Regions from separate parts of the Homo sapiens genome. Here region 1 is linked to region 2. Evidence: fine-mapped expression QTL. A gene starts in region 2. The other region holds a variant in brackets. All regions are shown on one strand. Distances are from middle to middle. Region 1 has its middle 19 kb from the start of SLC25A37. Region 2 holds the start of CHMP7 (charged multivesicular body protein 7).

What was found. PIP is the estimated chance that this variant, and not a neighbour inherited with it, causes the effect.
Region 1: its variant is fine-mapped to the expression of CHMP7 in whole blood (TOPMed, PIP above 0.99).

What each region holds. Positions count from the first base shown.
Region 1 is chr8:23,502,435-23,517,730 of GRCh38, reverse strand. No RefSeq gene overlaps it. Among named protein-coding and RNA genes, the nearest start is that of SLC25A37, 19 kb to the left of the region's middle. RefSeq lists an enhancer at 8,495-8,724 and a cis regulatory region at 8,252-9,108. The variant G/A (reference allele first, on the strand shown) is at 7,555.
Region 2 is chr8:23,231,890-23,247,073 of GRCh38, reverse strand. CHMP7 (charged multivesicular body protein 7) reads right to left here and starts at 3,437. Exons shown (of 11, transcript NM_152272.5): 1 at 3,230-3,437; 2 at 80-818. The coding sequence starts at 378. RefSeq lists a silencer at 1-404 and enhancers at 425-674, 3,244-3,745.

The DNA of each region.
Region 1 (15,296 bases), 270 kb before region 2:
TCACCAAAGATCTGTCTCTTAATCAGCAGTTAATTCTGCTTTTTAAGTGTCCTCTGGCCAGGCGCAGTGGCTCACACCTGGAAACAACCCAACTGTTCATCAGTAGCAGAATGGATAAATAAAATCCCAGCACTTTGGGAGGCCAAAGTGAGCAGATCAACTGAGGTCTGGTGTTCAAGACCAGCCTGGCCAACATGGTGAAACCCCATCTCTACTAAAATTACAAAAATTAGCCAGGCATGGTGGCGGGCGTCTGTAATCCCAGCTACTCAGGGAGGCTGAGGCACAAGAATCACTTGAACCCTGGAGGTGGAGGTTGCAGTGAGCTGCAATCACACCACTGCACTCCAGCCTGGGCAACAAAAGGGAGACTCTGTCTCAAAAAAAAAAAAAAAAAAAAATTGTCCTTTTTTTTTTTTTTCCAAAAATCAAAATCTATTTGATAAATGCAAGTATATAAAATCAGGACATGAACATGATTTGCTCAGTTTAATGAACTTAATTTTAAGATATAGATCAATTCAAATTCCCATCAATTGTGTCACATCCATAAAACTTACTTTAAGGGCATTAGCAGGCTCTCAAAATTGATCAATTTGGCACAAATAAACTATGTTTCTCTTAAAAGGCTTGTGCACTCACCCAGGCACAAGGGTGTTACAGTCGAGCACATTTACACAGGTAGAAACACAGAGTGCCTTCTTGTAGCTTTGCTGTATTCCCCTCTGTCCTTCTGTCACTGTCCTAGGAGAGCAGTGAACTCCCTTAGTTTCAGTGTCTCTCCATTCCTGGAAGTTGGTGGCCAAGTCATCCTAAAAAATAGCAACTTGATAACTTTCCAGCACTTTCAGATATCTTATCTCCCTTCCTTCTTAGGGCTGTTATTAAGGAGTAAGCTGGAGAAATGCAGGCCGTGTAATTTTATGATACTTGGGTCCATTTGTTGCTGCACCCCAGGAGGGTTGATTAATGGTGACAATATCAGCAGGAAGGGGGTGGGACAAAGGACTCTGTCCTTGACTTAGGTTCAACTCAACTATTTTTTTTTTAATCAACTACTAGAAAAAGTCCTGGGATGCAGATTTATCAACCTCTTAGAAGACAAAGCTAGGGGGAGTCACTTCTTAGAATGTTAAAATTCAATTTTTTTTTTTTTTTTTTTGAGACAGAGTTTCGCTCTTGTTGCCCAGGCTGCATGCAGTGGCACCATCTCGGCTCACCGCAACCTCCACCTTCAGAGTTCAAGCGATTCTCCCGCCTCAGCCTCCCAAGTAGCTGGGATTACAGACATCTGCCACCATGCTCGGCTAATTTTGTATTTTTAGTAAGACGAAGTTTCTCCGTGTTGGTCAGACTGCTCTTGAATTCCCAACCTCAGGTGATCCACCTGTCTCGGCCTCTCAAGGAGCTGGGATTACAGATGTGAGCCCTTGCGCCTGGCCTCAAAATTATTTTTAAAATCTTTAAAAGTATAAAATTTTACCCTTAAATCCTAAACATTAGGGAATTACTGGACGAGACTCAGCACTCCTAAGCAGATAAAACTTCACATGGCATTGTCCTCGCCCCCCAAGCTTGGCACAAACTCCAGCTCCTAGAACAATTTTCCCTGGCTCTCTTCACCTGGATGGTTGCTACTCGTCCTTCCAGTCCCCATTTAGATGTCACCTCCTCTGGGAAGACATGCTGACCTCACAGGTTTGCTTCTAGTTGCTCAAGCCGAAAACCCTGGAGTCATTCTTAAGTCCTTGTCTTTCACACAGAAAATTCCATCAGTCAAGAATCATGCCAGCTCTACCTCCAAAGTGTTCCTTTCCAATATACAGTATAGCTGTATATAGTCTTTTTAAGTGTCTAACTGGATTATTTATGGTTTTATTTATTGTGCTTATTTGTTGGTGTTTATTAACTGTTTCCCCCCAAAAAATGTGTCTCAAGAGAGACAGAACTTCAGTCTGTTTACGGATACTTTCCAGAATCTACAGAGGTTTGTAAGACATGGTAGAAACCTAAAAAGTATTTATTTTTTATAAATGAGCAGATAAATGTTCGGTACTCCTGTATCACTCTGAATTCTCTCATCATAAGATTTTGTATCCTGTCATGTAATTGACAGAGGTTTGTTTCTACATAAAAACCTGTCTTTTGGCCAGGTGTGGTGGCTCACACCTGTAATCCCAGCACTTTGGGAGGCCAAGGTGGGTGGATCACCTGAGGTCGGGAGTTTGAGACCAGCCTGACCAACATGGAGAAACCTCGTCTCTATTAAAAATACAAAATTAGCCACGCATGGTGGCACATGCCTGTAATCCCAGCTACTCAGGAGGCTCAGGCAAGAGAATCGCTTGAACCCAGGAGGCAGAGGTTGCAGTGAGCCGAGATCACACCATTGTACTCCAGCCTGGGCAACAAGAGCGAAACTCCATCTCAAACAAACAAACAAACAAACAAACAAAAACTATCTTTTCATTACACCTTTGCCCATGAATAAATTCCAGTTGTCACGTAATGGTTTGACCATTTCACTAGACTACAAACCACAAAGAGCCCATAGCCGGTCAGCCTGGCTGACTGCCGTACCCCCAACACCTTGGGGCAGTGCTCTGTAGAGAGACATAGCACATGCATTAAGTGCCAGGCACTCATCTGTGTTTTACAGGCACTAATTCATTTAACCCTCACAACTACTCAATGAGGTGGGTACTACTGCTATCTCTACTTTATAGATAAAGAAATTGAGGCCCTGAAAATTTAGGAAATGTATACAGTGGCACACAGCAAGAGATGGATCTTGGATTCTGACCTAGGAAATCTGGCTCCAGAGCTCAAGTTCTAAACTACTACGCTGAAGTGCCTCATCTTCTCAGGACACTTAATAAAAATTGTTTAATAAATAAATCCATGAAATATGGCTGCCAAAAAGAGGAGAATGTGTTCTTAAGCTGCATTAATAAAGTGTCAAGATAAGAGAGGCTGTTATAAGCCACATACATAATTTTAAATTTTCTAGTAGTCACCTTAAAAAATGTAACAGGAAACTGGTGAAATTAATGTTAATAATATATTGTATTTATCCCAATTTCTCCAGCGTAGGGTACAGGTCAGCTCAGTTTACGATGACTCGTTTTCAAAAAGACATCAGTCCACTGAAGTGGGTCTGAAGACTTAAACCACAAAGGCAATGAGTCTGCAATTTATGAATAGTTAGTGAAACTTCTCAGCCTTTGAAGAGTTGGGGTGGGAATTCAGGATCTCCCTTCAAATCCAGGGATTCCTGTGGGAAGAGGACTCATCTGGTGCAGTGGGGCCTGAGGGCAGAGCTGAGGGGTGAGAGTTAAGTCCTAGAAGGGCAGATTTCAGTTCCCTATAAGAAGGAACTAGTAGTTAGAAATACTAAAAATTTCAAAACCCAAGGGCCTCGCAACAGATGAATGGATAAACGCAATGTGCTCTATACATACAATGAAATTTTATTCAGCCTTAAAAAGCAATGAAATTCTGACATATGTTACAACATGGATGAACGTTGAAAACATGATGCTAAGTGAAATAAGCCAGTCACAAAAGGACAATATGTGATTGCACTCACATGAGGTACCTAAAAGAGTCACATTCATAGAGACAGAAAACAGAGTAGGGGTGACCAGGGGCTGGGAGAGTGGGAGAATGGGGAGTTAGTGCTAATGGGTGCAGAGTTTTAGTCTGGGGAGATGAAAATGTTCTAAAGATGGTGGTGGTGATGGTTGCACAGCAACATGAAGGTACTTAATGCCGGTTGATTGTACATTTAAGAATGGTTAGAGGCTGGGTGCTGTGGCTCACGCCTGTAATCCCAGCACGTTAGGAGGCTGAGGCAGGTGGATCAAAAGGTCAGGAGTTTGAGACAAGCCTAACCAACATGGTGAAACCCTGTCTCTACTAAAAATACAAAAATTAGCCGGGCCTGGGGTGTGTGCCTGCAATTCCAGCTACTCAGGAGGCTGAGGCCGGAGAATCACTTGAACCCAGGAGACGGAGGTTGCAGTGAGCTGAGATCGAGCCACTGCAGCACTCCAGCCTGGGCAACAGAGTGAGACTCCATCTCAAAAAAAAAGAAAAAAAGAATCGTTAGAATGGTAAACTTTATGTTGCGTGTCGTTTACCACAATAAATAATGGAAAAATTAAATTTTTAACCCATTTATGCCTGAGGTTATGCAATTTTTGGAATTTTTGCAGACCTTGGTGATGACCTTGAGCAGTAGGATATAAATAACTCCCACATGCTTAGCGTTGCAATTACGGAACTCTAGGCTTAAATGGGTTAATAAAAAAATCAGCAAACAAATAAGGCTCTGCCCTGTGAGACAATGGCAGCGAATGAGCTGAGGCAGAGGTTAAAGAAAATATAGGGACATTCTTGAATTTGGGTGGGAGTTAGACAGGTTGGCCCTTCAGGTCCTTTTTAATTTTTGAGTTTTTAGTTGTCTGTTTTGAACATTTGTTGAGCACTCAGTATGTCGTAACTATGTTAAGTATGAAGTATATCACTGACTTTCTACCACTCCCCGAGTCATCACTATCATAGTCCTCATTTTACCTACAAGGAAACCCAGGCTTAGAGTTCTCAAGCAATTTGCTCAAGGCCTGCCACATTCTAAATGTAAGAAAGAAGGGCAGAAACTCCAGAGACAGCACCAAGCTACAGGGCATGGATTTCACTGATGGGGAAACCGAGAGGGTTCCGTGACTCACACAAGACCATGCAGAGCCGGCATCAGGGCTCAGGTCCTTCCTGCTGTCAGGGGCTCCTCAATGACTCTACGCTCCCTCCCCACTCTTTCCTCCTCTGCTTGGGGCATCAAATGCTTTGTGGGCATCCTATTTGGTCACAGAAGGCTCTAACTGTCCTCAGGAAGGCACATGCCCAGCCTCAGAGAACATTACTGGGCCAGGATGTCTCATGAGAGACATAAAGACTGGGCCAATGTTGGCGGCACCATCACTGTCCTTTCAGAGCCCAATTTCCTGATTAACAAGTAAGTTACCTTGTTATTTTCATCACAATTTCCCATGTCAAAACCTCAGCGCTCCCTCATTTAAAAGGCAGTTGTAAATGATGATTTGAGAACACAAGCGCTTCCATAAACCCAGTGCCCATTTTAATTTCAGGAGCACCGTGCTTTGTGTTTGATATGGTCTGTTGGTGCTTTGAAGCAGAGTCTAGACAGTAGAAATAGAAGTCAAGCTACATTATGTAATATTACACTTTCTAGTAGCCACCTTAAAAAATGTAAAAGGAAAAAGGTGAAATTAATGTTAATAATATATTTTATTTAACCCAATTTATCCAAAATAATTACTGATGAGATTTTTGCATTCTTCTTTCATGCTATCTTTGAAGTCAGTACATATTTTATATATAGTTACATCACATCTCAATTCAGCCTAGCCATATTTCCAGTGATTAACAGCTACATGGAGCCAGTGACTACCATATTAAACAGCGCAGGTCTAGGCTCTTTTTTTTTTTTTTTTTTTTTTTTTTTGAGACAGGGTCTCACTCTGTTGCCCAGGCTGGAGTGCAGACTGGTGCAATGATGACTCACTGCAGCCTCCACCTCCTGGACTTAAACAATCCTCCCACCTCAGCCTCCCAGGTAGCTGGGACTACAGGCATGTGCTACCACTCCCGGCTAATTTTTTTTTTTTTTTTTTTTTTTTTTGTATTTTTAGTACAGACGAGGTTTCACCACATTGCTCAGGCTGGTCTCAAACTCCTGGGCTCAAGCAATCTGCCACCTCGACCTCCCAAAGTGCTAGGATTACACTATGCCCAGCTTAGGCACTTTTTTCTAGGAGTTTGATGCTGAAGTATAAAAGAGAAATAAGGGAGTTACATCTAGTGAAAATTTTACTTAGAATGAGATGCTGATCATACATGTCACCTATGGGGCATAGAGAGGGGAGGGACTAAAGATAGAAAAGAAAGGAAATAAATAATGGTGCCTTCTCCAGGAAGATGCTTGACTGGGGTGGATGGGGGTGGGAGGAGTACAGAAGGTGTGCTATCAAGGGCCAAGACAAGGGCAAGCTTTGGAGCCAGCGCTGATCAAGTTCTTCTACAAGAAACTCAACCTCTATAGAAACTCTTCTATAAGAGGACTCAAAATCATTTTACTCTTTTTATAGGATTTCTAGTTTTCACCCTTATTTCCTTCTCTCCACCCTGTTGTCCCTCATTTATCCAATTGCCATCATTGCGATATCACAACAAAAGAGCTAGGACTCATGTCACCTACAAACCCATCCCAGGTGCCACTGCTCGACTATGGGACTTGCGGCAAATCAGCTTCCTTCTATGGCTCCAGCTCTCCTTAGTAAAATGAGATGGTCCAACTATTCAGGTACTCATTCATTCATTCAGTTAGTCAGTCAATAAGTCATTCTGTAAGTATTAAGCACTTAATAAGCACCCCACGAGGTTTGAGCTGCTCTCTGATTGTCACCTCCCTCTGATTCTGCTTTGTGTTCCTTGTGACTCCTGGGTAACCCTCGCTCTGCTGCCACGTGCTGGATCTCCCAGGCTGAAATTTTCTGTTCCCAAACCAAACAAGAGGCTCCTCAGGCAGCCCAGATAGTCCCTGCTAGTGACCAAGAAAGGGAGGAGAAGGTATTAGTCCATTCTTTCACTGCTATAAAGATACTACCTGAGACTGGGTAATTTAGAAAGAAAAGAGGTTTAATGGACTCACAGTTCCGCATGGCTGGGGAGGCCTCAGGAAACGTACAATCATGGCGTAAGGGGAAGCAGGCATGTCTTACAGGGCAGCAGGCGAGAGAGCGTGTGTGTGAAGCGAAGGGGGAAGAGTCCCTTATAAAACCATCAGATCGCATGAGAACTCCCTCACTATCATGAGAACAGCATGGGGAAATTGCCCCCATGATCCAATCACCTCCCACCAGGTCTCTCCCTCAACACCTGGGGATTACAATTCAAGATGAGATTTGGGTGGGGACACAGAGCCTAACCATACCAGAGAGGGAATGATCACCGACAGGATGGGCCACAGCTGTGCCCACTGCACTTTTCTACTCAGGAATTTTCTCAGTACAGTGGCCTCCTTAGCTTCCATTTGGAGGTTTCGGCCAATACCCATCAGAGCTCTTTGAACTATACACCAGAGCACTGGGAGCATAGGAGAGAAGAAGGCAAACACAACAAAAATCCCCAATCCGGTCTTCGTTCCTCAAAGCCTGATTTATAACTGCTATCAGTTAGTACTTAGGGGGCCATGGGGTGGTGCCTCTCTCAACCCTGGCAATGAGGGAAATTTGGCTTTCCTCTGACGGTCAAAGCTGAGAGTTTGCATAGAGTACATCGGAGCTGCATAGCCACCTCAAAGAGAGAGGAGGATACTCAGGCGCATGAAGTCTGACTGATAATGGATTGCAAGTAGCAATGCTTCATTAGAGAAGGAAATAAAAATGGGTACGTGAAAAAGAGTCTTGAAGTCTGGGAGTAAAAGGAGAGTCACACCTAGAGACTTCAGCAGTGCCTGTCCCCACAGAGATC[G/A]GAAAGGACACAGCCCTAGCAAGGCCCAGAGGTCCCATCTGCTGACAGCCTCCTGGAGCTGGGACACACAGGGCTTGTGAGCACAGGTGGCATGCCAGTATCCTGTGGCCTTTGGTTGGACAGGTGTGTAATGCCCTACTGTTTATACTGATGCTGCGAAACGCCTGATTTATCTAGTTTTCCCTGAGTGTGGCTTTGTGCTCATCAGGTAACCATCTAGGCCACGCTTTGGTTTCTACAATGCTTTCCCTTTAGAGAGGGAATGTGTCCAGGCTCTGGAGCCCGGTTATTTATTCCTCACTGTAAATTCACGAACAGGTTGGAACTCTAGTTCCGTACATTAATCTTCAGAGTTTGATAAATATGAACCAGGCCCTGAGAGATCAAAGTACTCTCAGGGCACCAACAAAAGCAGAGTTCTGAGTCTGTTTGGTCCACACCCTGCACAATGTGTGGGCAGTCACCAAAGGCCACCCATGCTACCCAGCAGGAAGCGGCCCTGCCTCAGTGGCTGCACCCCCAGAGCGGCTTATTTATTGGAGAAATGTTATCTGAACACTTTGTGTTGGAGGGCACTGAGCTGAGTTTTGGGAATTGCTTTTTTGGTGCCTCTGGTTTTGCTTTCTACTGTAACTTTTAGAGAAATTAAAATAACAGTGCTTTCCTTCCTCTTCTCAAGCCAAAAGATGACCTTTGAAAAAAGTAAATACGTGCAGGATGAAGGCAACCTCTGTGGTCCTGTTCTACCCCCACCTGCGGTTTTGCGGCCAAGGAGTTTGACTTTAATGAGTGGTTTCCCCTGACAGGGCGGTTCTTAAAATTCAGCTCTATCTTTGCTCCATGTTACCTGGACATAAGAGCAAGAGAGGGCCTCAAAGGCTCTGACTCCACGGAAGCCTCTGGAGGCAGGCAAGGACAAGCTGCAAGGCAGGTGGGAGAATCAGGTACACGGCCACCCAAGAGGCAAGTCCTCCCTGAGGGGCCAGCTGTTATGGAGTAACAGGAATCCAGCCGGTTTTGGAGTTTCTATCTTTGAGTCCATTTCTGTTTTGTGAGTGTTGTGCAGCTGATCCTGTTGTGAAAACGACCTTCGGGGGACAGTAGGAGGAAGCGCTGATCTGTTCATCATTTGCTCACATACCATATTTAACCCTCCTGGGGGCTCCTCCCAGGAGAGCTCAGCTATATTTATCTCCCACTGACTTGCCAGGTCCTTTCTGGTTGATTAGAGAGAGGGCGGGTTCAGTCCTATATCGGAAACCATCTGCTCTCAGGCCAGAGCCGCATGTACGGAGCGAGATCTCTCAGAGAGGTGGTGGGTATGGTAGGATAAGCTGGGAGTGACCTGTCCCCAGCACACACCCTCATTAGAACCCAGGGGAACCGAGGCTCTTAAAGGGCCAATATGAGGTATGTTTGTTTCTCCAGCTTGCTTTGATTGTTCAAAACATTGTCTGGTATGATTTTGGCTTATAGGACATTAAACTAATTATCATACACTGTAAACAATCGAGGACATGGCATTGTCCAGTGGCTACTAATAGGATATGCTCTTTTTATGTTCTCTAGGAGACGTTTCATCAACGATAGCTATGCTGCATAGATCATTTAGAAGCCAGCACTTCCAGGTGTTGCTGAAATAAAGCAGGACTAGCTTAAGAGTCACTTGATGCTAAAATACAGATTCCCAGGGACCACTCCCAGAGATTCTGATTCTGTAGGTCTAAGGTAGGACCCAGGAATTCGCATTTTTAGCAACTCTCTTCACCACTACCAACATCTCCCTTACGCGCATACGCACACCAGGTGATTCTGAGGTGCAGTATCAGGGGACCCCACTTTGAGAAAGTCTGTAGAGAGAGTACCAGGCTTATGATCTGCAGGCTTGGATTTGGGAATAGCTGTGTGATCTTAAATAAATTCCTCCACCTCTCTGGGCCGCCATTTCTGTGTCTAGAAAATGAGGGAACTGAACCTTAAGGCCCTTTCCAGGACCAATATTCCAGGAGTTCAAGCACATTCTGAATGCCCTCGCAATGGGTGTTCCAAATCTCCTATGGTGGAAGTCAAGCACCAGAATGAACTATACCCCAAAGAGGATGGTCACCTGACTCCCCCATTCAGGATTAGGCCTTTTAGGGGAGACAAGGCTATACTCTGATCTCACACAACCCCCTGCTGACTCTAAGTACTTCCTCGAGCACAGTCATTTATTTCTGCCTTCCTGCAGAGCAAAGGGTGAAACTTGCCTTATTGAAGGGACATTGAGGCACAGAGTGATGGAAAAGCTCAGAGACATGGACAGCTCATCTCTCCCGAACTCCTGTGCTTCGTCCTCGAGTCTCCTGCATAACATTGACTCATGAGGAGCTGTCATCTGTCAGAATGAATGGCGGACCCTGGAGGAGACCTATAAACAGGCCAACCCCTTTTTCTTTACTATTTTGCTCTGAGCTTTTGTTGCATGTACCTGCCATAGGAGCAATTTGCCCAGGCCCTGCACTCTTGAGAAGGAAAGCTCTCCTTCTTAAAGGAATTTGGAATCTTCATCCTTTGTGTTTTTATTACATCTGATCATCATCCCCTCCCAGTGAAGTGATAACATCTAATAAGCCATAACTTCCTGGACTCAGAGGCTTGGAACTCAGTTGTGAATCACCACCCATGATGTTACTGCCTGGTTATCGCAGTATGAAGTGACATACAAATAAGAAAAGTCCTTATTTGTGAGACTTGAGCTTTGCAGCCCAGTTTTACATTCTCCCTTCCCTCCCCCTTCAGATTTTGCAAAGAATAGGTCTATGATGACAGCCTCAGCTCTGCACACACCTCCCTGGGCTCCTACCTTCTCAGCTGCATAGAGTTGTGACTTTCAGGGGTTATTAATAATCACCTGATCTGTCTTGGGGAATTCTTGTATAAAATCACAAAATCTTATAGAAGATACTGTATGACTCCAGTTTCTGTTTCAATATAGCGCTATTCTCACATTTCATCTATTGGCATCTAATTTCTTTAACAAGAGCCTTGGGGTCATGGCACAACTTTTGACCTTAGAGAGATCACAGTTTAGCAAGGAATGAAGCTGTTCTTTCCTCTCTACCCTCTACTGCCTCCCAAACTTGAAGCCAGCACTTCAGAACACCACTGAAAATCAGAAAGCAGTAAAACAAACAAACAAAAAGGGCTGGGAAACAGCCAAAATAGATTTCGTAAAGTCTGTGTGTTCTTTGATCTTAGGGAATCCTCTGGTATGAGCTGTCATGCTGATTATTGTATAAACAAACCCAAAAAGTTAATTTCTAAACCCACGGTGAATTGGAAGAAAAAAATGGTGCTTGAAGGCAGATACTGACAGTATAAATACATGACAGCCTTCAGAAATGGCAAGGCTGAGAAGGCTAGAACTAGATGCTCTGTGTTCAGAGGCAGGAAAGTAGGTAAAATATTCTAGAAATTATTACAACGTAAAAATTTTAAAGAATTTAAAAGGATAAACCCTCAGCTATCTAAGAAGACACATTTCCAGAAAGTAGCTATGCTTAACTGGAGTTAAATATTTATTGTCAGTGAGTCAAATCCTTGGAGTATGCTGGTTAATAGAACATCAGTGAAAAGTGGAAGAGCCATTTACTTAAACCCCGTGAGCAGCCTTGGCTAAGTGAATCTTGGAAGCTTTTTAAAAAAATACTTCCAAAGTTTGGGGAGTTATCTAATTTTGCAATAAAAGCTGCCACACAAGCCAGGCACAGTGGCTCACACCTGTAATCCCAACACTTTGGGAGGCCCAGGCAGGAGGATTGCTTGAGCTCAGAAGTTTGAGCCCAGCCTGGGCTACCGAGGGAGACTCCATCTCTACCAAAATCAAAAATAAATATTAGCTGGGAGTGGTGGTGCATGCCTGCGGTCCTAGCTACTTGGGAGGCTGAGATGAGAGGATCTCTTAAGCCTGGGAGGTCCATGCTGCAGTGAGCCATGATTGTGCCTCTGCACTCCAGCCTAGGTGACAGAGCAAGACCTTGTCTCAAACTTCAAAAAAATAAAAAACCGGCCACCCCTCCCAAATACAGTGCTGTTTATCTAAGTGATGGAGGAGAGAGTGGTAGTATATTTAAGATAACCTAAAACTAACTTTTTGAGAATTTTTTAAACTTTCCATAATCCTTAAAAAATAACAGTTTTCTTATTACAAATGTGGTAGACAAACATTGTGGAAATTTTAGAAAATGCAGATAAGAAAAAAGAACAAGCTAAAAGTCACTGATAATTTCGTTCCCAAGAGATAGGACTGTGAACGTACAATGCATCCTTCCAGTCTTTTATATTTTAAATTATTTTTGATTGAAAAAGAGATACACAAATACATGCCCCTTTTAAACAAAAGCAGGCATCATATACAAAACTAAATTACCCATTGACCACCTCCCACAGTTCCAAACCCTTCCCTGCTATTCTGGTGCCCAACCGCTCTTGGGAGTTTGAAGTGTTTCCTTCCAGAATTTCATATGCATTCATGTATATATATGTATACACATATATAATTTCACATATAAATAATATATATAAGGATTTTTGTGTGTTGAATAACATTCCATTATATGGATATACCATATTTTATTTGACCTCTTAAGCTTTTAGCGGACAGTTAATATCATTAACAACTTTTCACTACTACAAACAACACTGCAGTAAACGTCTGTGTTTTCCCTTTCTCTATTCTAAATTCCTGTGAGAGGAAATTGTGGGTCTGAGGTATGCCCAAATTGTCCTCGCCATTTTAAATATGAAAACAGAGTATGAACGTTCCTGTTCCCCTGCGATCTTGACAACCCTTCACCTACCAGATCTTTCAAGGTAGCCAGCTGAGTAAGTGTAAACAGTATCTCGCCATTGTTTTCATTGGTATTTGCCTGATAAAAAATGTGTTTGAGCATCTTCTTATGTGTTTGTGGCCATGTGTATTTCCCCTTTTGTGAATTGCCTATGCATATCCACAGATCATTTTTCTTTCTTCTTCTTTTTTTTTTTTTTGAGACGGAGTCTCGATCCATTGCCCAGGGTGAAGTACAATGGTGAGATCTCCACTCATTGCAACCTCCGCCTCCCAGGTTCATGCAATTCTCGTGCCTCAGCCTCCCGAGTAGCTGGGATTACAGGTGCCCACCACTACGCCCAGCTAATTTTTGTATTTTTAGTAGAGACAGGGTTTCACCATGTTGGTCAGGCTAGTCTTGAACTCCTTACCTCAGGTGATCCACCAGCCTCGGCCTCCCAAAGTGCTGGGATTACTGGTGTAAGCCACTGTGCCCATCCCTTAGATCATTTTTCTAAAGGGCTTTTTTAAAAATTCATCTGTTTTACTCATTCTTTGAAACATACATTGCAAAGTTTTCTCCCAGCCCTCAGCTTGTCTTTAACATTGGGGTATCTTATTGTATGGTTCCTTTTTTACTATTTGGATGACATTTATTCACTGACCTAATTAAAATGTTCAGCCTTTTACTGCATGAGTTTTATTTTCTGTGACTTATTTAAGATCTCCATTTACTTGGGATCATAGTATTTTCTTATACATTTTTAGCTAACAATTTGAAATTTTTATATTGAAGGGCTAGGTTTTTAATTCATCTGTAGTATAATTTTGTGTACCACATAAGGTAGCGACTTAGTTTTATTTATTTTGTGTACACAGAGTTGATTCTGTCAATACCACTTATTTATTTATTTATTTATTTATTTATTTTTATTTTTATTTTTTTGGAGACGGAGTCTCAATCTGTTGCCCAGGCTGGAGTGTAATGGCGTGATCTCGGCTCACTGCAACCTCCGCCTCCCGGGCTCAAGTGATGATCCTGCCTCAGCCTCCCGAGTAGCTGGGATTACAGGCGCCTGCCACCATGCCAGACTAATTTTTGTATTTTTAGTAGAGATGGGGTTTCACCATGTTGGCCAGGCTGGTCTTGAACCCCCGACCTCAGGTAATCCACCCGCCTCAGTCTCCCAAAGTGCTGGGATTACAGGCATGAGCCACCACACCCGGCCAATACCATTTATTAAATAGTCCATATTCCCTCACTGATTCGAAACGTTGCCTGCATCACATTCCATTTTTGTAGTGTTGTTTCTGGATTTTTTTTTTTGGAATAATGTTTTATTGACCTAATTCTATTCTAATATTACAACAAAATGGGGCTAATTTAACTGCCCTACAGCACGAAAATGTGTGTGTGTGTTTACATCCTGCTTCTGTCTTATAACCTGCTATTTTTACTGAAAAACTGCAACAGGAGAATAGAGTGATTCTGGTAGTCACACAATGGAATATTACATAGCAATGAAAAGAAACCAAATCTTAGTATATCAACATGGATATATTTCCCAAGTAAAGAATTGAGTGTAAAAAACAAATTGTGTTAAAATGTCAGGGTGCCATTTACATACTGGTTTAAAATCTGTAAGGCAATATTTCACACAGTTTAGAAATATATATGCGGGCTGGGCACAGTGGCTCATGCCTGTAATCCCAGCACTTTGGGAGGCTGAGGTGGGCGGATCACTTGAGAAGTTTGAGACTAGCCCGGGCAACATGGTAAAAACCCCCGTCTCTACTAAAAACACAAAAATTAGCTGGGTGTGGTGGCGCACGCCTGTAGTCCCACCTAGTTGGGAGGGTGAGGCAGGAGAATCGCTTGAACCCAGGAGGCAGAGGTTGCAGTGAGCCAAGATCATGCCACTGCACTCCAACCTGCACAACAGAGTGAGAATCTGTCTCAAAAGAAAAAACGAAAGAAATATGCAAAAAAAAAAAAAAAAAAAAACCTAAAAGAAAATTCATGCAAATGAGAGAAACCAAAGTCAGAATTAGAGGTAGATTTACCATGAAGCATATGAAGCTTAAGCTCAGACCCCTTACATACATGATCCCTTTCAAGGTCCTATACTTAAATTTGATTTCTTAATTTTTTTTTTTTTTTGAGACAGAATCTCACTCTGTCACCCAAGCTGGAGCATAGTGGCATGATCTCAGCTCACTGCAACCTCTGCCTCCCAAGTTCAAACAATTCTCCTGCCTCAGCCTCCCGAGTAGTTTTTTTTTTTTTCTTTTTTTTGTATTTTTTTTTAGTAGAGATGGGGTTTCACCATGTTGGTCAGGATGGTCTTGATCTCTTGACCTCGTGATCCGCCTGCCTCGGCCTCCCAAAGTACTGGGATTAGAGGCATGAGCCACCGCACCTGGTCTTTGATTTCTTAATTTTAAACTTTTTTTTTTTTTTTTCTTAAAAAAAAAGGCTCTCCTCTTGAAAACTGTATTGGTTTCAGGCCTATCTGTAGGTGGGGGATGGGGAGGACAGGGGAGGGAAATAGGGAAGAGAAGCGGAGAAGAAAACAGAGCCTGTTCCAAAAGACTGAGAGTTTCTCAATACCATGGTGTTATTGGCCAGCTCTTGGGCACCTGTGCCTGGAACTTATGTTTATTGGAAACCAGAGGGTGGGATCGCAATTGTATTGGACTTGATTCACAGTTCAGTACCTTGCACAGTGCCAGGTCTAGAGGAGCTGGAACAGAAGCCATCTGATAGTGATCAGTTCCCAGGAATGCCACCAGCTGCCATACTGCACGCCTCAACCAATTCTTCCAGCACTAGTGGGCCTTTACACTGTCACAGAGCCCACAAAACCCAATGCTTGTCTAGAGAAGTTCCCCAGGCCAAAAGCTGAGTGCTTAGGGGGTAGATCAAGGA
Region 2 (15,184 bases):
AGAGAACAGGACCAGGGCCCGGCCCTCCGAGAGCTGCCCCCGCCCGCCCTCGCGGCCCTGGCCCCAGCCCGCCCCTCACCGCAGCAGGTCCTGCAGCACCGTGGCCAGCCCCAGCGGGACGCTCCCCTTGCGCTGAAAGGCCTCCTGCAAGTCCCGCAGACGCAGGCGCACCACCCCCTGGCGGCGGCTGTGGCTCAGCACCAACGGCGCCCAGAAGCCCATCTTGCTGTCCCAGTCGGTGCTGTTCACCTCGCGACTCCTCTTGAAAGCGGAGAACAGGAAGGACATGCGCTCCTCGTCCTCCTCCCACTCGGGGGGCAGAAGGCCCGCCGGGTCTCCCCCGGCTGGGGCCTCGGCCTCCCGCTCCGGGGACCACATCGGAACCCCAGCCCCGGCAAGGCTGCGAACACAAGCCTGGCCCTGGTCCGCTTCCGCCCTCGTTCCCTCCCGGCTTCCGTTCCTTGACCACCTCCTTCTCGTTCACACGTCACCGCCGCCCTGAGCGTGAAATAAGTTCCATAAGTCTTCAAGGCGCATGCGTTGCGCTGCGCTCCGTCAGCCAGGAGGCAGTATGATGAAGTTCTTTTCAGAGAGACACCGAGCGCTTGCGCCGACCCCTCCTCCCACGGTCTTTGTGCCGAAAGAAAGGCTTGCGCCTGCGCGGCAGGTGGCTGCACCTTACGTCTCCTTCAAGATTCTGGAGTTCGGCAAAGCGTTGTACAGCGGCTTCTGACCTGTGGCTTCAGAAAATGGAACTGGGGAATAGCCGCAGAGGGGCGCCAGTGGTGCCCGGACCACCCGGATGGATCCGTGAATCTCTGTATAGAGGGAAATTTATATCAATGAATGCACAAACCAGAAAAGAAGAAAGATCTAAAATAACCTAAGATTCCACCTTGGGAATCTATAAAAGAAGAACAAATTAAGATCAAATTAAACAGAAGAGAAAAAATAATAAAAAGAGCAGAAATCAATGAAATTGAAAACAAACTCAAAAGATTATCAACAAAACCTAAAGCTGATTTTTTGAAAAGGTCAATGAAATTGATTAACCTCTAGCCTGGCTAACAAAGAGAAAAAACAAATACTCAATATCAGAAATGAAATAAGGGACATTACTGCAGATCCCATGGGCATGAAAATGATAATAAAGGAATACTATGAATAACTGTATGTCCACAAATTTGATAACCTAGACGAAATGGACACATTTCTTGAAAGCACACTCTGCCAAAACACACAAGAGGAAACAGACCACTTGAATATGTTTATATCTAATTAATTGAATCAATAATTAACAACATCCACACAGAAAGCATTAGGCCCAGATGGTTTCATTTGATAAGTTCTACCAAATATTTAAGAAAAAAGTTGTACCAGTTCTGTGCCATCTCTTTTATAAGATAGAAACAAAAGGAATACTTCCCAACTGATCCTATGAGGCAAGGATTACCCTAACGCCAAAACCACACAAAGACATTACAAGAAAGAAAAAACACAAAACAATATATCTTGTGAATATAGATGCAAAAATCATCAATAGAATGTTAGCAAATTGAAACCCACAATGTATCAAAAGAATTGTACACCAGGTTAAAGCGGAATTTATTACAGCTAGGCAAGGCTAGTTCAATGTTCAAAAATCAATTAATATAATCCACCAACAGACTAAAGAAAAATCATATGATCATATTGCTAGATGCAGAAAAAGCATTTGACAAAATCCAACACCAGCTCATGATAAAAAGTCTCGGCACTCTAGGAATAGAGGGACACATCCTCCACTTGATAAAGAACATAAACAGGAACCTTACAGCCAACATAAGAATTAATGGTGAAAACCTAGATCGTTTTCCAGTGGAATCAGGAATAACACAAGAATGTCTGCTCACACCATTCCTAGTCAACACTGTACGGGAAATCCTAGCTAACACAGTTAGCCAAGAAAAAGAAATAAAAGTTGTACAGACTGAAGAGGAAGAAATAAAATGGTCTGTCTTTATAGAAGACATAATTATCCATGCAGAAAATTATGAAAGAATTGCCAAATCGATGTCCTGGAACTAAGAGGCAATGAGAACAAGATTGCAGATACAAAGTTAATGTATAAAAGTCAATTCCCATATACCTATAATGATCAAGTGGAATATGAAATTAAAAATGCAATACCATTTACATTAGCACCCCCCTATAAAACTTAGGTATAAATCTAACACGGTATGTACAAATTCTACATAAGGAAAACTACAAAATTCTGATGAAAGAAATCTATGAAGGACTAAATAAATACAGAGGCATTTTATATTCATGGACAGGAAAACTCAATATTATCAAGATATCAATTCTTCCCAAATTGATCTGTAGATCCAGTGAAATCCCAGTGAAAATCATGGCTAGTTATTTTGTGGATATCAACAAACTAATTCTAAAGTTTATGTGGAAAGGCAAAAGACCCAGAAGAGCCAACACAATATTGAACAAATAAGTCAGAGGACGGATACAACCCAACTTCAAGAATTACTATAAATCAACAGTAATCAAGATAGTGTGGTATTAGTTAAAGAATAAACAAATAGATAAATGGAACAGAATAGGAATCCCAGAAATAGGCACATGTAAATACAGTCAACTGACCTTTCGAAAAAAGAAAGGCAATACAATGGTTCAAAGAGTCTTTTCAACAATGAGCACTGGAACAACTGTACACCTACATGCAAAAACAAAAACAAATCCAGGTACAGATCTTACACCATTCACAAAAGCCAGCTCAAATGGATCATGGACTTAAATGTAAAAACACAAAACAATAAAACTCCTAGAAGACAAAACATCTAGATGACCTTGGGCATCATGATTACTTTTTAGATACAACACAAAAAGCATAATCCATGAAAGAAATAATTGATAAATTAGACGTAATTATTATTATTATTATTATTTGCTTTCTGAAAGACACTGTGAAGAGAATGTGAAGATAAGCCACAGACTGGTAGAAACTATTTGCAAAAGACATCTCTGATAAAGGACTGTTATCCAAAACACACGAGGAACTCTTAAGACTCAAAAAAAAAAGAAAAAGAATAACCCAGTTAAAACATGGATAAAAGATCTGAGCAGACCTCTCACCAAAGAAGATCTACCAACGGCAAATAAGTATATGATAATATGCCCAACATCATATGTCATTGGGGAACAGCAAATTAGACAAGAATAGCATACTACTACACACCTATTAGAATGGTGAAAATCCAAAATACTGACCACACCAAATGCTGGTGAGGATGCAGAGCAACAGGAACTCTCATTCATTGCTGGTGGAAATGCAAACTGGTACAGCTACCGTAAGGTTGGCCAAGAGAAAAGACGAGTATACTCAAAGTCAGGCAAGCAAGTTTATTGACCTGCCGGCCTGCTGCATAACAGTCAGAGGAGGCAGCCCAGGGTGTTTAAGGTGAGGGACTTATATAGGGCTTTGAGGGCCTAGGGGCTTTCTGAGGTTAGTCTACATCCTGCAGTTGTTTGTCACTTCTTGCCCCACCTGGCTTAGAGTACCAGGATGTGGTTTGGCCTGGGGGTGGATACAGCTGTACCTAAGTTCTGGTAACGTGAAGTAGGGGCAGCATCTCAGAAGAAATAAGCTGCAGGGCATTTAGGGGAGGGGGCTTGCTGCGTTCTTCTGTGGACAGGTTGTCTCTAAGAGCTACTTTGGAAGACAGTTTGGTCGTTTTTCACAAAATTAAACATTCTCTTCCCATGCAAGTTTACTTATAGTTTAACTTTGAAACAAAGTATAACAGTCCTTTCCCAAAACAAAACTCCTTACTGCCTGTGGACTAGACTGCCTAGACTGCCACAAGATTAGAAGTTATGGTAATTTTACTAAATCAAGATGTAGCTATTTTCATTAAACCAGTATCAATGTCTTATTTATTAATGGTTACACGAGCAGAGATCATTCTGTCTTGGGCTGGGTTTATAGCCTGTGCCAAATTTTGACACCTAATAGTATTTGGCAGGGTTAAGTATGAAATTGCTTGATTAATAAACGCAAATAAAAATGTATGCTGGCAATTCCTAAGACATTTCTAATATTACTTTACCAATAATTTTAAAGATAGCTTATTTATTAAAGATTTTACTTAAGTCACATAACTTGAAAAAGCATTTGACTAGTCTTTCCTTTTTCTAATAAAGTATTTGATGTAAATGCTTTTATTTTTTAAGACAATTAATTAGAGCTCTTTGATATATTTTCAGGAGTGCAACATTGTATACATAACATATAAATACATAGATGTATTAGGCATGCTGATAGAAGAAGTACATCTTACAGATTCATAAAAACCTTTTTTCTTTATCTTAGACTTTCAGATTCTTGATAACCTGTTTCACAGTGCTAGGCAGTAGTCAGCTAAATAGTCTTAAATTTGCATATTAAAGGAAACAACTCAGGTGAAAGTCAGATAGCAAAATTTACATTATAAGGTCTGAAGAGAAATTCTGTGAGCTAGAGGGAAATTAAAACAGATTTAATTGCCAATTGAACATAAAATTATAGAAATTTATCACTGGATTGTATAAGGAGACCACTGTTATTTAGATAGGGACTACCAATTCTTTTTTAACTGGATCTCTGAGCTCTGGGCAGAGCCCACACTGAATCCTGGGTCTCCAAAAAGGGAGAATTATTATGAGGCTAGACCACATGATGCTTTTACAGTGCACTTAAAACATTTTTGTAAACAAAGCATTTCTAAGTGTCTAAACTATACTCTTTCTTAAAAACCCAAGAGTAGCCTCTGTTGCAATAACTATTTTAGTAAAAAAAAAAAAAAAAATCGAGTGGAAACAGAATTGAGTCAATTGAGAACAAAAAAAGTTTTTGCTCAAAAAAAGACAAGGTCCTAGCAGAGAAAAACAAAAACAAAACCATGAAGGCCTTTTAAATATGAACATGCACTTATGCACACATACACATACACATACATTTTAAATATTAGCTTTTAATTAAGTTGACTTTTAACTATTGAGTGTCTTTAAAAATAAAAAATCTTGGGCTGGGTGCAGTGGCTCATGCCTGTAATCCCAGGACTTTGGGAGGCCCAGGCGGGCGGATCATGAGGTCAGGAGATGGAGACCATCCTGGCTAACATGGTGAAACCCCGTCTCCACTAAAAATACAAAAATTAGCCGAGTGTGGTGGCACGCGCCTGTAGTCCCAGCTACTCAGGAGGCTGAGGCAGGAGAATCGCTTGAACCCGGGAGGCAGAGTTTGCAGTGAGCCAAGATCGTGCCACTGCACTCCAGCCTGGCGACAGAGCAAGACTCTGTCTCAAAAAAAAAAAATTCAAAATTTTATTATTATATTTCAGCTAGGACAAATTGCTGCTATTTCAGAAGTACCAAGTATTGGTCCGGCGCGGTGGCTCACACCTGTAATCCCAGCACTTTGGGAGGCCGACGCTGGTGGATCACCTGAGCTCAGGAGTTCGAGACCAGCTTGACCAACATGGAGAAACCCCATCTCTACTAAGAAATTCAAAAGGCACATGCCTATAATCCCAGCTACTCGGGAGGCTGAGGCAGGAGAATTGCTTGAACCCGGGAGGCGGAGGTTACGGTGAGCTGAGACCACGCCATTGGACTCCAGCCTGGGCAACAAGAACGGAACTCTGTCTCAAAAAAAAAAAAAAAAAAAAAAAAAAAGCAGAAGTACCAACTATCAAACCAGAAAGGACTTGATTTAGGAACCAAACTTAGGCTGTCATGAAGACAGGAGAAAAAAAAAGGCAGAACCTTAGCTATTGAACTGCAGAGTAGGGGGACAGCCATTGCTTTCAGTTTGGCCTGGTTAGCAAAAAGGAGGCTTTGTTATGTAAATAAAACCCCTTAAGTAATAAAAATAAAACATTTTTCTTGCCGGCCGGGTGCGGTGGCTCAAGCCAGTAATCCCAGCACTTTGGGAGGCCGAGGCAGGCAGATCACCAGGTCAGGAGATCCAGACCATCCTGGCTAACACGGTGAAACCCCGTCTCTACCAAAAAATACAAAAAAATTAGCCAGGCGTAGTGGCGGGTGCCTTAGTCCCAGCTACTCGGGAGGCTGAGGCAGGAGAATGGCGTGAACCCGGGAGGCAGAGCTTGCAGTGAGCCGAGATCGCGCCACTGCACTCCAGCCCGGGCGACAGAGAGCGACTCCGTCTCAAAAAAAAAAAAAAAAGTTTTTATTTATTTTTTTTCTTTTGTTGGCCGTTTTTCTCCCCTCACTATACCACCTTTTTTTGTGTATGGGAATTTAGCCACTTTAGAGGCCTTGTTCCTCATAATTTGGAACTTTCCTTCGGATTTGATTGAGTTGGACAGAGTTGGTCAAACCCAACGGGAGAAAGACTGAAACAACAAAAACAGAAACAAATAAACATCAACAACAACAAAAAAGTTAAGCAAAACAAACAATCTCACAACTTAACATAATTCCTGAGCACTGTAATGGTAAGGAGAAATAAAGACCAGCTGGTTTTTAATCTTAACTTTAGCCAAGATAAACCCCAATTCAGTTGCTTATCTAGGAATGGATCTCAGGCTGTAGACCACTCTCTACCATCCTAGAAGCAGAAAAACAAACAAAACAACAACAACAACAACAACAACAACAACAAACTCACCTTCCCTGTTGGAAGTGAGCTCAAACTCCATAAAGGAGTTACCTATCTTCCATCATCATGGAAGCAGGAAAACTTGCCTTTCTTGTTGGAAGCAAGTAAAACTCCAAAAAAAAAAAGTTGTATAGCAAAATAAACTTTAGATTTCAACCAAATTTGGGAAGATAGTAATTCTCTTGGTGGGGCGGAGGGGTGAGGGGTGGGTTGCTCTCAGACCTCAGCAAATTGTCCCATAGGTTTGAGCCATAAAGTAAGCTCATGCTGGTACCAAGCACCAATAGGTGCTTGTCAAATCTAGCTTGTCAGAGGCTAGATTTGTCAGAGGTGGGGAGCATTCCACTCAGAATCCCTTTATGGTTATTAAATATGGGCCCAGAATATCTGAGACGGGTCTCAGTTAATTTAGAAAGTTTATTTTGCTGGCCGGGCGCGGTGGCTCACGCCTGTAATCCCAGCACTTTGGGAGGCCAAGGTGGGCAGATCACCAGGTCAGGAGATCGAGACCATCCTGGCTAAGACGGTGAAACCACGTCTCTACTAAAAATACAAAAAATTAGCCGGGCATGGTGGCAGGTGCCTGTAGTCCCAGCTACTCGGGAGGCTGAGGCAGGAGAATGGCGTGAACCTGGGAGGCAGAGCTTGCAGTGAGCGGAGATCACATCACTGCACTCCAGCCTGGGCAACAGAGCAAGACTCCATCTCAAAAAAAAAAAAAAAAAGGTTTATTTTGCCAAGCTGAAGACGTGTGCTCATGACACAGACTCAGGAAGGCCTGAGGACATGTGCCCAAGGAGGTCAGGGCACAGCTTTGTTTTACACATTTTAGGGAGACATGAGATATCAATCAATATATGTAAGAAGTACATTGGTTTGGTCTGGAAAGGTAGGACAACTTGAAGCAAAGGCAGGAAAACTAAAAGCGGAAAAGGGATGTATTAGTCAGGGTTATCTTACAGGGATAGAACTAACAGGATATATATAAAGAGGAGTCTCTTAAGTATTAACTTGCACGATCATAAGTCCCACAATAGGCTGTATGCAAGCTGAGGAGCAAGGAGTGTCAGTCCGAGTCCCAAAACTGAAGAACTTGGAGTCAGACGTTCATGTTCAAGGGCAGGAAGCAGCCAGCACAGGAGAAAGATGTAGGTTGGGAGGCTAGGCCCATCTCTCCTGTTCATGTTTTTCTGCCTGCTTTATATTCACTGGAAGCTGATTAGATTGTGCCCACCAGATTAAGGGTGGATCTGCCTTCCCCAGCCCACCGACTCAAATGTTAATCTCTTTTGGCAACACCCACACAGACACCCCCAGGATGAATACTTTGCATCCCTCGATCCAATCAAGTGGACAGGCAGTATTAATCATCACAGAGGGCTTCCAGGTCACAGATAGGTGAGAGATAAACGGTTGCATTATTCTGAGTTTCTGATTAGCCTTTCCAAAGGAGACAATCAGATATGCATTTATCACAGTGAGCAGAGGGATAACTTTGAATAGAATGGGAGTCAGGTTTTGCCTTAAGCAGTTCCCAGCTTGAATTTTCACTTTAGCTTAGTGATTTTGGGGGCCCAAGATATTTTCCTTTCACAAAGGATACCCAAAAATGTGGAAGCGACTTCAGAAGTGGGTAACAGGCATAGGTTGAAACAGTTTGGAGGGCTCAGAAGAAGACAGGAAGATGTGGGTAAGTTTGGAACTTCCTAGGCACTTGTTGAATAACTTTGACCAAAAAGCTGATAGTGATATATGGACAATGACATCCAGGCTAAGGTGGTCTCAGATGGAGGTGAGAAACTTGATGGAACTGGAGTAAAGGTCACTCTTGCTATGCAAAGAGACTGGCGTCATTTTGCCCCTGCCCTAGAGATTTGTGGAACTTTGAACTTGAGAGTCATGATTTAGGGTATCTGGAGGAAGAAATTTCTAAATGGCAAAGCATTCAAAAGGAAGCAGAGCATAAAAGTTTGGGAAATTTGCAGACTGACATTTCAATAGAAAAGAAAATCTCATTTTCTGAGGAGAAATTCAAGCTGGCTGCAGGAAGTTGCATAAGTAATGAGGAGCCAAATGTTAATCACCAAGACCATGGGGAAAATGTCTTCATGTCTGCAGGGCATATCAGAGGTCTTCATGGCAGCCTCTCCCATCACAGACCTGGAGGCCTAGGAGGAAAAATTGGTTTCCTGGGCCAGGCCCAGGGTCCCCCTGCAGTTTGCAGCCTTAGGACTTGGTGCCCTGCAACCCAGCCACTCCAGCCATGACTAAAGGGGGCCAATGTACAGCATGGGTCATGGCTTCAGAGGGTGAAAGCCCCAATCCTTGCCAGCTTCCACATGGTGTTGGTCCTGCAGGTGTGCAGAAGACAAGAATTGAGGTTTGGAAACCTCTGCCTAGATTTCAGAGGATGTATGGAAATGCCTGGATGTCCAGGCAGAAGTGTGTTGCAGGGTGGAGTCCTCATGGAGAACCTCTGCTAGGGCAGTGCAGAAGGGAAATGTGGGGTCAGAGCTCCCATACAGAATCCCCACTGGGGTGCTGCATAGTGAATCTATGAGAAGAGAGCCACCATCCTTCAGACCCCAGAATGGTAGATCCACCAACAGCTTGCACTATGCAACTGGAAAAGCCACAGACACTCAACACCAGCTTGTGAAAACAGCCAGGACAAGGGGGTGTACCCTGCAAAGCCACAGGGGCAGAGCTGCCCAAGGCCTTGGGAGCCCACCTCTTGCACCAGCATGACGTGGATGTGAGACATCAAGTCAAAGGAGATAATTTTGAAACTTTAAGGTTTAATGACAGCCCTACTGGATTTCGGACTTGCATGGGGCCTGTGGCCCCTTTGTTTTGGCCAATGTCTCCCATTTGGAATGGGTGTATTTACTGAATGCCTATACCCCCTTGTATCTAGGAAGTAACTAGTTAGCTTTTAATTTTACAGACTCATAGGTGGAAGGAACTTAACTTGTCTCAGATGAGACTTTGGACTTGGACTTCTGATTTAGTGCTGAAATGAGTTAAGACTGTTGCCACGGCATGATTATGTGTTTTGAAATGTGAGGACATGAAATTTGGGAGGGGCCAGCGGTGGAATGACATGGTTTAGCTGTGTCCCCACCCAAATCTCATCTTGATTTGTAATGAGAGGTAGTTTAATCATGGGGGTGGTTACCCTCATGCTGTTCTCATGATGATGAGTAAGTTCTCATGAGATCTGATGGTTTATAAAGGGCTTTTCCCCCTCTTTGCTCTGCACTTCTCCTTGCCTGCTGCCATATAAAATGTGCCTTTGCTTCTCCTTTGCCTTCTGCCATGATTGCAAGGTCTCCTCAGCCATGTGGAACTGTGAGTCAATTAAACCTCTTTACTTTATAAATTATCCCATCTTGGGTATGTCTTTATTAGCAGCATGAGAACAGACTAATACAAATGGTTTAGCACCATCCCATGGTGATAAGTGAGTTCTTGCTCAGTTAGTTCGTGCAAGATCTAGTCATTTCAAAGGTTACAGCATCTCTCTCCTTTCTCTCTTGCTCCCACTCTCACCAAATAATGTGCCTGCTCTCACTTCACCTTCCCCCCCATGAATAAAAGCTAAAAGCTCCCTAAGGCTTCACAGAAGCCAAGCAGATGCCAGCATTATGCTTGTACAGCCTGCAGAACTATGAGCTAATTAAACCTTTCTTTATAAATTACCCATATAGCAATGCAAAAATGGCCTAACACAAGTGGTTATGAGATCTGTGTCAAAAATCATTTGACCGTATTTGTGAGGGTTTAATTTTGGGCACTTTATACTATTCCATTGGTCTATATGTCTGTCTTTCTGCCAGTAGCACACTACTTTGATTCTTATAGCTTTAGTTAAGTTTTGAAAAGAGGAAGTATGAATCCTCCAGCTTTGTTCTTCTTTTTCAAGGTTGTTTTGGCTGTTTAGAGTTCTTGAGATTCCATATACATTTTAGGATGGATCTTTCTATTTCTGCAAAAATACATCATTGGTATCTGGATCGTGATCACATTGAATCTGTAGATTGCTTTGAGTAGTGTTGGCATCTTAAGTCTTCCAATCCATGAACACAGACTGTCCTTCCATTTATTGATGTTTTCTTTAATTTCTTTCAGGAACATTTTGTAGTTTTCAGTGTACAAGTTATTTGCCTTGTTGGTGAAGTCTATTCCTAAGTATTTTTATCATGCCATTGTAAATGGAATTGCTTTCTTAATTTTCTTTTCAGATTGTTTATTGTTGGTGAATAGAAAAGGAACTGATTTCTGTGTATTGATTTTTTCTGCAACTTTTCCAAATTTGTTTATTCATTCTAATAAATGTTTGTGAAATCTTTAGGGTTTTCTATGTATAAGATCATGGCAGCTGCAAATAGAGATAATTTTATGTCTTCCTTTCAAATTTGAATGAGCATATTTCTCTTTCTGGCATAACTGCTCTAAGACTTCTAGTACTATCTTGAATAGAAGTGGTGAAAGCAGGCATCCATGTCTTGATCCTAATCTTAGACAAAAATCTTTTAGTCTTTCATCCTTATGTTGGTTTTCATTTTTCAAATATGTTTTTCATTATGTCTATCTAGTTTCCTTCTATTCCTAGTTTGTTGAGCATTTTTATCATGAGACAGTATTGAATTTTGTCAAATGCTTTTTCTGCATCAGTTGAGATCAGTATGGGCAACAAGGAGACCTTGTCTATACTAAAAAAAAAAAAAAATAGCCAGGCATGGTGGCACACCTATAGTCCCAACTCCTGGGGAGACTGAAGGACGAGGCTTGCCTGAGCCCAGGAGGTGGAGGCTGCAGTGAGCTATGATCAAGCCTCTGCACTCCAGCCTGGGCAACAAAGTGAAACGCTGTCCCAGAAACAAAAACAAACAAACAAAAAGAGATGAGGATTATGTGGTTTCTGTCCTTCATTCTGTTAATGTGCTGTATTACTTTGATTTTCATATGTTGAACCATGTCAGCATTCCAGCGATAAATCCCGCTTGATTATGGTGTATAATCCGTTTTTTTTTTTTTTTTTTGAGATGGAGTCTCGACTCTTTTTGCCCAGGCTGGAGTGCAGTGGCACAATCTCAGTTCACTGCAACCTCCCCGTCCCAGGTTCAAGTGATTCTCCTGCCTCAGCCTCCTCAGTAGCTGGCATTATAGGCAACTGCCACCAAGCACGGCTAATTTTTTTTTTTTTTTTTTTCTGAGATAGAGTCTTGCTCTGTCGCCCAGGCTGGAGTGCAGTGGTGCGATCTTGGCTCACTGCAAGCTCCGCCTCCCAGGTTCAGGCTGTTCTCCTGCCTCAGCCTCCCGAGTAGCTGGGACTAAGGTGCCCACCACCACGCCCGGCTACTTTTTCTATTTTTTAGTAGAGATGGAGTTTCACCGTGTTAGCCAGGATGGTATCCATCTCCTGACCTCGTGATCCGCCCGCCTCGGCCTCCCAAAGTGCTAGGATTACAGGTGTGAGCCACCACGTCTGGCTCTTTTTTTTTTTTTTTTTTTGAGATGGAGTTTCACTCCTGTTGCCCAGGCTGGAGTGCAATGGTGCGATCACGGCTCACCACAACCTCCGCCTCGTGGGTTCAAGTGATTCTCCTGCCTCAGTCTCCCAAGTAGCTGGGATCACAGGTGCATGCCCACCGGGCCCGGCTAATTTTGTATTTTTAGTAGAGATGGGGTTTCTCCATGTTGGTCAGGCTGGTCTCGAACTCCTGACCTCAGGTGATCCACCAGCCTCGGCCTCTCAAAGTGCTGGGATTACAGGTGTGAGCCACCGTGCCCAGCCTAATTTTTGTATTTTTAGTAGAGATGGAGTTTTGCCATGTTGGCCAGGCTGGTCTCAAACTCCTGACTTCAGGTGATCCACCTGCCTCAGCCTCCCAAAGTGCTGGGATTATAGGCGTGAGCCACTGCACCCGACCGGTGTATAATACTTTTTTAAATGTTTGATTCAGAACCAGGCATGGTGGCTCACACCTATCATCTCAGCCCTTTGGGAGGCCGAAGCAGGAGGATTGCTTGAGCCGAAGAGTTTGAGACTAGCCTGGGCAACATAGCAAGACCCCATTTCTACAAAAAAAAACAAGAAATTAGCTGGGCGTGGTGACAGGCAGCTAAAGTCCCAGTGACTTGGGAGGCTGAGGGAAGGGGATAACTTGAGCCCAGGAGTTCAAGGCTGCAGTGAGCTATGATCACACCACTGCACTCCAGCGTGCTGACAGAGCAAGACTGTCTTTAATAAATAAATAAATAAATAATAAAAATCTGTAAATGTTAGTTTCAGTTTGTTATTATTTTGTTGAAGATTTTTGCAGCAAAATTTATAAGGGATATTGGTCTGTAGTTTTCTTTCTTGTAGTATCTTTGCCTGACTTTAGTGTAAGGACAATTCTGGCCTCATAGAATCAGTTAGGAAGGGTTCCCTCCTTTTCACATCTTTGAGAAAACTTGGGGTTGATTTTTCTCTTTTTCTTTTTTTTTTGAGACGGAGTCATTCTCTTGTCGCCAGGCTGGAGTGCAGTGGCGCAATCTCGGCTCACTGCAACCTCCGCCTCCTGGGTTCAAGCGATTCTCCTGCCTCATCCTCCCGAGTTGCTGGGACTATAGGCGTGCACCACCACGACCGGCTAATTTTTGTATTTTTGGTAGAGACGGGGTTTCACCATGTTGGCCAGGATGTCTGGATCTCTTGACCTTGTGATCTGCCCACCTCGGCCTCTTAAAGTGCTGGGATTACAGGCATGAGCCACCGTGCCCAGCCGATTTTTCTTTAAATATTTGGCTGGACACAAATCTGGTCCAGGGAAGTTTTTGATTGTTGATTCAATCTCCTTCCAGTTATGTCTGTTCCAATTTTCTATTTCATTATAAATCAGTCTTGGTAGGTTGTGTGTTTCTAGGAATTTGTTCATTTTAGCTAGATAAATGTGTTTTTTTGGCATACATTTTTTCATAGTACTCTCTTCTAACCCTTTTTATTCCTGTAGAATCAGCAATAATGTCCCACTTTCATTTCTGATTTTAGTAATTTGAGGATTCTTATTTTTTAATAAATCAAGCCAAAGATTTCTCCATTTTGTTAATCTTTTCAAAGAATCAACTTTTGGGCTTATTGATTTTCTTTACTGTTTTCCTATTCTCTTTTTAAAATAATCTCTCCTCTATTTTTTTTTATTTCCTTCTTTCCGCTACCTTGGATTTAGTTTATTCTTCCTTTCCTAGTTTCTTAATGTGTAGATTGTTTATTTTAGGTCTTTTTTCCTTTTTGATATAAGCATTTACCATGATAACATTTCCTCTTAGCACTGCTTTTACTGCATCCCATAAGTTTTAGTATGTTGTGTTTTTTGCTTCACTTATCTCCAGATCTTTTCTAATTTCTTGTATGAGTTCCTCTTTGACTCGTTGGTTATTTAAAAGCTTGTTGATTTCTACATGTTTGAGGAGTTTACTCTTTTCCTTCTGATACTGATTTCTAGTGTCATATTGTGATCAGAAGAGATACTTTCAGTTATTTTAAATTTATAAAGAATTACTCTGTGGTCTAACTTATGGTTTATCCTGGAGAATATTCCATGTATCTTTGAGAAAAATTGTATGCTTCTGTTTGTGGTGAACTGTTTTCTATGTCTTTTAGTTTCCATTAGTATATAGTGATGTCCAAGTACGCTACATCCTTATTGATCTTCATTCTGATGGTTCTGTTTTTGAAAGTGGGACAATTGAAGTCTCCAACTATTATTATAGTAGTGCAAATTTCTGCCTTCAATTCTGTTTATTTCCTGTATTATGAACATGATGGATTGGATAAAAGGAATTTAGTGAAACAGAACTTTTAGTAGGAGGTTTTATTTCTGACTAGGAGTTACGGAGTGTTTACTGTGTGCTGTAGCTATTGTTGTCATAGACTAAAATTTCTTTTTCTTTTCCTTTCTTTTTTTGAGACGGAGTATCCCTCTGTCGCTCAGGCTGGAGTGCAGTGGCTCGATCTCTGCTCACTGCAACTTCCACTTCCTGGGTTCAAGCAGTTCTCCCGCCTCAGCCTCCTGAGTAGCTGGGATTACAGGCATGCGCCACCATGTCCGGCCAATTTTTTTTTTTTTTTTGTATTTTTAGTAGAGACGGGGTTTCAGCATGTTGGTCAGGCTGGTCTCAAACTGCTGACCTCGTGATCCGCCCGCCTTGGCCTCCCAAAGTGCTGGGATTACAGGTGGGAGCCACCGTGCCCGGCCGTCATAGGCTAAAATTTCCTCTGTTGTCTTTTTTTTTTTTTTTTTTCCTTTTTTGTCTTCCCTATTGTCTTTGGATTTTCTTTAAGATTTCTTTGTAAATAAGGTCTGAGACATTCCCCATTTCACTTTCTTCCACTCTCTTCTCCCCTCCTACCTTCTTTCTCCTAATTATCCTAAGCATTTTATTCCCCAAACTAAAAATACAGGTTCTTGGGGATAGAATTATTATTTTTTTCTTTTTTTTGAGACGGAGTCTCGCTCTGTCACCCAGGCTGGAGTGCAG